Linked DNA regions of Homo sapiens: region 1 is reported to be linked to region 2. Evidence: microRNA targets listed by miRTarBase, many of them from high-throughput screens and not tested one by one. Region 2 holds a microRNA gene; the other region holds the end of a gene's coding sequence. Distances are between the middles of the regions.
The links. Region 2 holds the annotated microRNA hsa-miR-30c-1-3p (CUGGGAGAGGGUUGUUUACUCC, at 1,308-1,329, shown strand). A microRNA usually pairs through its seed, bases 2 to 8, with sites in the 3' UTR of a target mRNA and lowers its output. Matches are read on the target gene's strand: a 7mer-m8 pairs with bases 2 to 8, a 7mer-A1 pairs with bases 2 to 7 and ends in A, and an 8mer does both.

Region 1: the mRNA of CAPZB is a reported target of hsa-miR-30c-1-3p. The part of its 3' UTR that is shown has no 7-base or 8-base seed match.

Annotation. Positions count from the first base shown.
Region 1 is chr1:19,335,817-19,339,816 of GRCh38, forward strand. CAPZB (capping actin protein of muscle Z-line subunit beta) reads right to left here. Exons shown (of 9, transcript NM_004930.5): 9 at 2,959-3,801. The coding sequence ends at 3,714. Among named protein-coding and RNA genes, the nearest start is that of SLC66A1, 25 kb to the left of the region's middle. RefSeq lists enhancers at 1,538-2,502, 3,669-4,000.
Region 2 is chr1:40,756,032-40,760,420 of GRCh38, forward strand. It overlaps MIR30C1 (microRNA 30c-1), which reads left to right and starts at 1,253; the gene lies at 1,253-1,341. It overlaps NFYC (nuclear transcription factor Y subunit gamma), which reads left to right. Exons shown (of 10, transcript NM_014223.5): 6 at 2,090-2,263.

The DNA.
Region 1 (4,000 bases), 21 Mb from region 2:
GGGACATCTCTGCTGCTGCCAAACCCCAGGAGTCTGTAGCCTGCAGCCCATGAACCCCAGGGGCTCCCATACGCCTTCGTTCTCTTCTTAGGGATGCCCGAGGTGCCCTGCTGGACCCCAGAGCTTTCCTCACCAGGCAGCCAAGGAACGAGCAGGGAAAGGCATGGCTGGGAAGTGGGAGAGGGTCACCAAACACATCCTCGAGGCCCACTGTCCCCAATCTCACCAGCTGAGTTTAGCATTAAAACACTAGCAGTGAGGGCTGTGTGCGGTGGCTCACACCCGTAATTCCAGTACTTTGGGAGGCCAAGTTGGGGGAGGGATCGCTTGAATTCGGGAGTTCGAGACCAGTCTGGCCAACATGGCGAAACCCGGCCTCTACTAAAAATACAAAAATTAGCTGGGCGTGGCGGCGGGCACCTGTAGTCCCAGCTACTTGAGAGGCTGGGGCAGGAGAATCGCTTGAAGCTGGGAAGTGGAGGTTGCAGTGGGCCGAGATCACGCCACTGCAGTCCAGCCTGGGTGACAGAGCAAGACTCCATCATAAAACAAAACAACACAACACTAGCAATGAGGGCTGGGCGTGGTGGCTTACACCTGTAATCCTAGCACTTTGGGAGACTGAGGTGGGGGATCGCTTGAAGCCAGGAGTTTGAGACCAGCCTGGGCAACAGGGTGAGGGCCCGTCTCTACAAAAACAAAAAAACCCAACTGGTAGTGAGGGTCCCTGTGGAAGATTCTAGATAGCAGAGCAAGATCAGGCCTGTCATACATCGCAGTCACAATTTCTGGGTTTCAAGCATTATTTTTGGTCCCAGGATTGTACGGCTGATGAAAGTGACAGCTCAAGGAGCAACTGGTGGGTTTCCTGAAGGGAAATCCCCTGAGAGGAGAGCGGGCCTGAGCCTCCAGGGGTGACTCTCAGGTGAGTCAGAGTCCACTCCACCTCTGCAGTTCTGTGGAATTACCACTGGCGTGCACAGCAGCTCCCAGCCTAGCAGCCTCTGCTGCAGGACAGCAGGCCTCTGCTGTGGCGTTCCCGGTGTGCCTGTCTCACTGACTTCAGGGGTGGCTGTTTTTCCCTTGCGACCTCAGCTCCTCTCATGTGTCCAAGGAAAGGCATTTTCCATTTGTCCAGTTTCTTCTTGAAGTGACAACTGCCAAAGATTATTTGCTTGGCCAAACTTTAGTCAGGCTCCTGAACCTTCCCCTAGGCCCACCTGTGTGCCCTTGTAAAATCCAGTTTCAGCAATCCCTTGCTAAGTCAATTTTACAAAAACGGCCATCCTTGATATTTTTTTTCTTTTTTTGAGACAGGATCTCACTGTCTTCTAGGCTGGAGTACAGTGGTACGATCTCGGCTCACTGCAGCCTCAACCTCCCAGGCTCAAGTGATCCTCCCAACTCAGCCTCCCAAGTAGCTGGGACCACAGGTGCACACCACCACGCCTGGTTTGTATTTCTTGTAGAGATGGGGTCTATGTTAACCAGGCTAGTCTCAAAGCCCTGGGCTCAAGCCATCCTCCCAACTTGGTCTCCTAAAGTGCTGGGATCGTAGGCGTAAGCCACCACACCTGGCCTCATCCTCCACCCCCACCCCCAGGTGATGTCTGGTCACCCTGGCCTGTCTTCAGCAAGAATCCTGTTAGGTGTGTTTGGCCGGAAGACCCCTGACCCCTGAGGTTTCCTCTGAGTCATTTTCCACCCACTGCCCCCCTCTGCTCCTTGGCTCTAATCCCCACCTGCCCGTGCTGCTGCACTCAGAGTTGAGCCCAATCTCTCTCCCCATCCACAAGACCCCACTGCAGTGGCCCCTGTACCTACCTTGATGATCCTGGATAAAACTTTACCATGAAAGAAAATGAAAAGCAAAACATTTGTTTTTCCAGCCCCTTCTGTGTGCCAGGCACCTTGCCAACATGACCCCGGGAGGCTGCAGCACCCGTGTGCCCATGGGGAACAGCTCGCTGGGCCCTTCTGTGTGCCAGGCACCTTGCCAACATGACCCCGGGAGGCTGCAACACCCGTGTGCCCATGGGGAACGGCTCGCTGGGTGCATCCCCTCATGGCTCACGGCTGGAGTGTGCCTGCGTTCTCCACGTGGCACTAGGAACTCAGGGGGCAGGGGCTTCTCTGCTGTCTGTATGCCATGGCACTTGCACTCCATAAAGATACTGCATCGGCCGGGTGCGGTGGCTCACGCCTGTAATCCCAGCACATTGGGAGGCGGGAGGGTCACCTGAGATCGGGAGCTCGAGACCAGCCTGACCAACAAGGAGAAACCCCGTCTCTACTAAAAATACGTTAGCTGGGCATGGTGGCACATGCCTGTAATGCCAGCTACTGAGGAGGCTGAGGCAGGAGAATCGCTTGAACCTGGGAGGCGGAGGTTACAGTGAGCCAAGATCATGCCATTGCACTCCAGCCTGGGCAACAAGAGTGAAACTCCGTCTCAAAAAAAAAGATGTTGCATCAGACCCAGGGACCTCAAACACATGGGCTGGCCAGGTTGTGGAGCCCGCTGATTGGCCACGGACAGATGGGGGGATGGTCTCGGCAGGGACTTTGAGATCTGCTTCAGATCTTCCCTGGGGCAGTTTGGAGGGTAGAAGGCAGACTCTGTGGCTCTGTGCAGCCTTGGCTGAGTTACTGCAACTGAACCTCGGCTGCCTCACATTTGTACTAGGCACAGTGGGAAGGCGGCGGGAGGTGCGTGCTGCGGCGCCAGAACAGTGTTTGCTGGTGCTTCTGCCCTCCAACGGCAGAGGGCGGAAAGGGACAGGGACTCTGCACCTCATCACATACCTGGTGTTTTCAGGGCGGCGGGGCTGGGGACGGGACACTTCCTTGCTGCCGTGAGCGGGGCCCACACGCGTCCCAGCTTGGAGCCAGCGCACGGCCACGGCCACACGCGCTCGGAAAGCGAGGCCGGCGAGAAGGAACACAGAAGGCCAGCGCTAACTGCGCCCCAGTTTCTTTTTATTGATTTCTTTTCTTTTCTTTTTTTAAGTATGGAGGCTCAAGTATAAGATGTAGATTTTTTTCTTAAGCTTTACAAAAAAACAAAATAAAACAAAAACCTCCTTTTGCATTCCATAGAAATTGACAGAAAAGCACCTGGCCGGAAGAGCGGAACGGTCGGCGGCACCCCCCCCAGCCCCCACCCCGCGGCCTCCGTGGGACGGGAGAGTCTGCGCAGGACGGCACCGAGGGCCACCTCTGCTCCCAGAGCTGTCCCCTGTCCCCACGACCCCCAACCCCAAGCAACTCCCAAACACACACGGAATAAGATTTCCAGTTTTTCTTCTCTCTTTCACACACCACAGTTAGTTCATAAAATTTTTTTGTTTTACATTTTTTACACCAATGTACCAAAAAGGTGGGAGGGAAGGGAGGCTGGCAGACAGTGGATTTTATGCCTATAAATGGGGGGACAGGGAGGAAGACGGGGGGCCCGGGTGAACAAAAACCACACGGTCTCTATGGAAATGTGGAGAGAACTGAGAGCGAGGTGTGGCAGAAGCAGGCTCGGAGCCGGAGGAGGGTGGCTATCGGCTTTATTCTCAGGGAGAGATGGCGCTGTGCGGTCAATGATGCAGCTGTTATGTGACCTGTCGGGGAGGGAAGGGACGAGGGAAGGGAGCAGAAAACGAGTTTTCTAAGAAAGGAATCTAACGAGTGCACGGCGTGTCTGGTTAGCATGAAACAGAGGTTTAGCATTGCTGCTTTCTCTTCAAAGCCTCCACCAGGTCATTCTTCAGAGCTTCTTGTTTTGATTTGTCTGCAAAAGTCTGCACAGACCTGCAAGGGAGGAAAGGCGTTATCAGCAGATTGAACAGGGACTGGTGAGGCGGTGGAGGCCTGGGGGCCACCATGCCAGTGCCTGGCTGATTTGCTGCATGGACCCGCTTCCTGGGGTGAGGCTCTGGGTCACTGGGCTGGGCATCTGCCCCTCTCAGAAAGGGGCAAAGGGGTACATGGCCGAGACCTGCACCCTCTG
Region 2 (4,389 bases):
AGGCTCTCATTCCTGTATACCCTCTCATTACCCAAGAGCTTTTCCAAGTTAGGTCTGGATTTCAGTGATTTGTGCTTTTTGTAAAATAATAAGGGAGATCTCAGTGGAACACAAGTACCTTGAACCTACTTCAATAGCTTTGCAAAGAGCAGTTGGCTTCTGTTTCTTGGCTGCAAAAGGTATCAGTATTTTAGCTTTGCCACAGCCAATACCTAGTTTCCAGGCTGACATTTATTTATAATGATGATAAGTTGGGGTTGAAATTGTTGTGGAAATTGAGACCTAGATGAAAATAAAAGGGAATCTCCTTTTCCTTCTGCCTTAGCATAATCATATTGAGGGTTAAAACTATTTGTGTCTGAAGCACAGACTATATCAACCTAAAAAGTCAGTTCATATATTAACTTAGAAACCCAGAATGTTACAGGTATCTCCCTAAGCTGGGTAGATGGCTGTCAAGTAACCATGTCATGCAGAGACCCATGTTTCTCAGGGGTAGATACTGGCAGTCCTAGTTTTAGTATCCTAGCCCCCAGACATCAGGCAAACAAAGGATACTCAGCTCTGTTCCACAGGGGACACTAGCTGCTTCCTCACACTGTGGCCACAGAGTCTTAGAGGTACCAAAAGAGAGTTTAGAGACTACTTTTTTCTATTGGTAACAGCTGTTGGGTTTAAGAGAATTTGTCATATCAGCAAGTTGGATTCAGAGAACTACTTTCCTGCCTCTAACTGTCTGCCTGTCTAAATCCATTCATCATTCATCACGCACTTACTGAGTGCCTACCTGGGAACGCGGGGGATAGCAGAGAGCAAGAGAGAGCTAGGCTTTGCCCTCATGGTGCTTAACATTTTAGTAGAACAGACAGTTAATTTGACATGCAAGTGCAAAAATGTATACTGTGAGGACAGTACTTTGGAAGCACAGTTGAGGGCACCTAACATAGTGTGGGGATGGGGTCAATACCAGCTTTGTAAATGTTACTTTGGGGAGTTGGAGGCAATCCACAGGGTCTGTGTACATCTAAGAAGTGTCTTTTCCTCTTTTCTGGAACGTGGCAAACTTTGCCCTGAATAAGGACATGAGTAAATTTAGCTAATATTTTTACTCAGCCAGCCCAAGTGGTTCTGTGTTTTTATTGTTTTTGTTGTCCCAGGCAGGGGCACCATGTGTCACACAGGTCACTCCGGATCAGACGCCGTTCTGTGTCAGTGGTCAGGGGCTGATCAACCCTGGACCCTGTGGGCTATAACCATGCTGTAGTGTGTGTAAACATCCTACACTCTCAGCTGTGAGCTCAAGGTGGCTGGGAGAGGGTTGTTTACTCCTTCTGCCATGGAAAACATCAGCTGAAGAAGGAACAGTCTCCACTCCGCAGATCGGACAGAATGCGACCTCCCTAATCAGCCAAGGCAGTACCCCAGCGGAGAGCTGTCCATCAGGCCCCCTGGGTTGCGCTTCTGTGGCTAAGTACAACCAGAACCAGATGTGACACTGGATAGACATGCCCTCAGTGACCACAGAGCTTTCAACAAGCTGTGAAAAGCTGGGTACTTGCCTACCAGTGCTCTCGATCCTGAAATTTCAGCTCAGGAAAAGCCCTGTTTCCCATTAACCTGTTCTGTCCCCCTTGAAGTGGTGGGGCTAAAACGAGAAGAGTGCTGCCTATTTGGGAGATTGGGACCAGGCCTGAGAGGCATGATGTTTGGGTAGCATCTTCCCAACACTTGCAATTAGCACTGTTCTCAGATCACAGGCCTTGACAGCATTTACTGACAAGCACTGCTGGTGTGTGGTTTTTAGTTACGGTACTTATTTGCCCGTTTGCAACTTATCATGCAATGGGTGATTATTTCGTACTTCAGAAATTGGCTGTATGTTTTGTGAAGCCTATAGGATCTGTTATTTTTAGTTTGATTTAGCATAACTGGTCTCTTTGAATTCCACTTTCCTTTGGCTTCAAATGTGGAGAGCTCAGCATTCAGCAGGCAACTGCACATAGCCTGTTTGGGGGAAGAGTGGAAATTCACTGTGGCGGCTGCTGAGTTGGTTCTTTTCCTCTTACCTGCCTCTCTTTCCACCCAACAGGAGGAGGTGCGCCAGTCTGTAACTCCTGCCGAGCCAGTCCAGTACTATTTCACGCTGGCTCAGCAACCCACCGCTGTCCAAGTCCAGGGCCAGCAGCAAGGCCAGCAGACCACCAGCTCCACGACCACCATCCAGCCTGGGCAGATCATCATCGCACAGCCTCAGCAGGGCCAGGTCTGTGAGCTGCTGAGGATGCCCATCCAGCAAGACAGTGCCCCTTAGGTTTTTGGATGGGCAGAGCTTGATGAGGGCAGAGAGGCAGCCAGATCATTATAGAGCACTGGATTTAAAGTCTGGAAACTGGAACTTTTCCCCAGATTCAGCTACTGGGGTGAGATGTTACCCTAATCTCTCTGGACCCTGTTTTTCTCAAAGGTCAAATGAGGAAAGTGTACTAGACAGTATGTTCTCCAGGATCCCTATTAGCTCAGAAATTTTAGAAGGGAAAAAAAAATGTCTGAAATGCCTTATGAAGAGTAGAGGTGCTAAAGTGAACTCCATGCCTGCTGTCTGTGTGTCTGTGTGAGAAGTGGAATTTGTGCCCTTAAAGGGAGAGATTAGGTATCATTGCCAAGTTGCATACTCCTTCTCCCCGTCATTTCTCTGTCCCATATTTGTGTTAAGTGACCTTCTCTTTTTACGATAGTAATCAGAGGACTCTTTCTCTCCCCAGTAGTAGTGTTAAGAGCAGTAGCATTCATGTTTGTTGGGGGTCATGTGAGGCTGCAGAGAACTCTGTACTATGAGCTCTGAATCCAAATTCTCTGTCAATCATTATTTATTCATCAAACACTGAGCATCCTCTGAGGGTAAAGTTCTGTGCTATGTATTGGGGATACAAGCATGAATAAAACAGTCCTTATTTTCAAGGAATTCACAATTTAGTTGGGGATACAAATACTTAAAGGTTGTACCACCACGTGGGAATGTGTACAGGGTGTTAAAGGAACACATTAAAAGAAGTACCTTGGCTCAGCGCAGTGGCTCATGCCTGTAATCCCAACACTTTGGGAGGCCAATGTGGGAGGAACCCAGGAGTTTGAGGTTACAGTGAGGTAGGATCATGCCACTGCACTTCAGCCTGGGCAGCACAGCAAGACCTCTTCTTTAATTAAAAAAAAAAAAAAAAGGCAGGGGCATGTGGTGGCTCATGTCTGTAATTCCAGCACTTTGGGAGGCCGAGGCAGGAGGATTGCTTGAGCCCACGTGTTCAAGACCAGCCTGGGCAACATGGTGAGACCTTGTCTCCACCAGAACATCAGAACATTAGCCAGCCATGGTGGCATGCTCTTATGGCCCCAGCTACTTAAGAGGCTGAGTTGGGAGGATCGCTTGAGCCAAGGAGGTCAAGGCTACAGTGAGCTGTGATTGTGCCATTGCACTCCAGCCAGGGTGACAGAGCAAGATCCTGTCTCAAAAAAAAAACAAAAAAAAGTATATGTGTGTGTGTGTGTGTATGTGTGTGTGTATTATATATGTGTGTATATATATGTATATGTGTGTGTATGTATGTAGGGGAGGGGATGAGTAGCTGAGAAAGATGTGAACGAGGTGGTCAGATAATGTTTCTGAAGGGAATAATATGAGTCTTGGGGAACAGTGGAAATTAATCAAAGAAAGTGGGAAAGGGTGGTATTGCCAGTAGAGGGCACAGCACAGGCAAAGGCTCAGAGGTGAGAAACAGTACAGGGGGCCGTAGGAAAGTAGTCAGCGTAGGGGACCATCTACGCAAGTTTGGAAAGATAGATAGTAAACACATCCTGGACAGCCTCGTATATTCTAATAAGGAGCTGAGTTTGCCTAGAAGAAAAAAAAATGGAGTAGAGGTAGATTGATTGATTGATGTTTTTTTAAAGATAAGTTCTCACTTCGTCACTCAGGCTGGAGTGTAGTAGCACAATCATAGCTTACTGCAGCTTCAAACTACTGGGCTCAAGCAGTCCTTCTGCCTCAGCCTCCCGAGGAGCTGGGACTCCCAGGCATGTGCCACCACACCTGGATAATTTTTAATTTTTTTGTGGAGATGGGGTCTCATTATGTTTCCCAGGCTGGTCTCAAACTCCTGGCTTTATGCCATCCTCCCACCTTGGCCTCCCACAGTGGTGGGATGACAGGCATGAGCCACCATGCCCAGTTAGGAGGTAGATTTAAGTAATTATGATTTGGCCAGGTGCGGTGGCTCACACCTATAATCCCATCACTTTGGGAGGCCAAAGCAGGAGGGTCGCATGGGCCCGGGAGTTGGAGACCAGCCTGGGCAATATGGCAAGACCTTGTCTCAAAAACAAACACACAGAGAA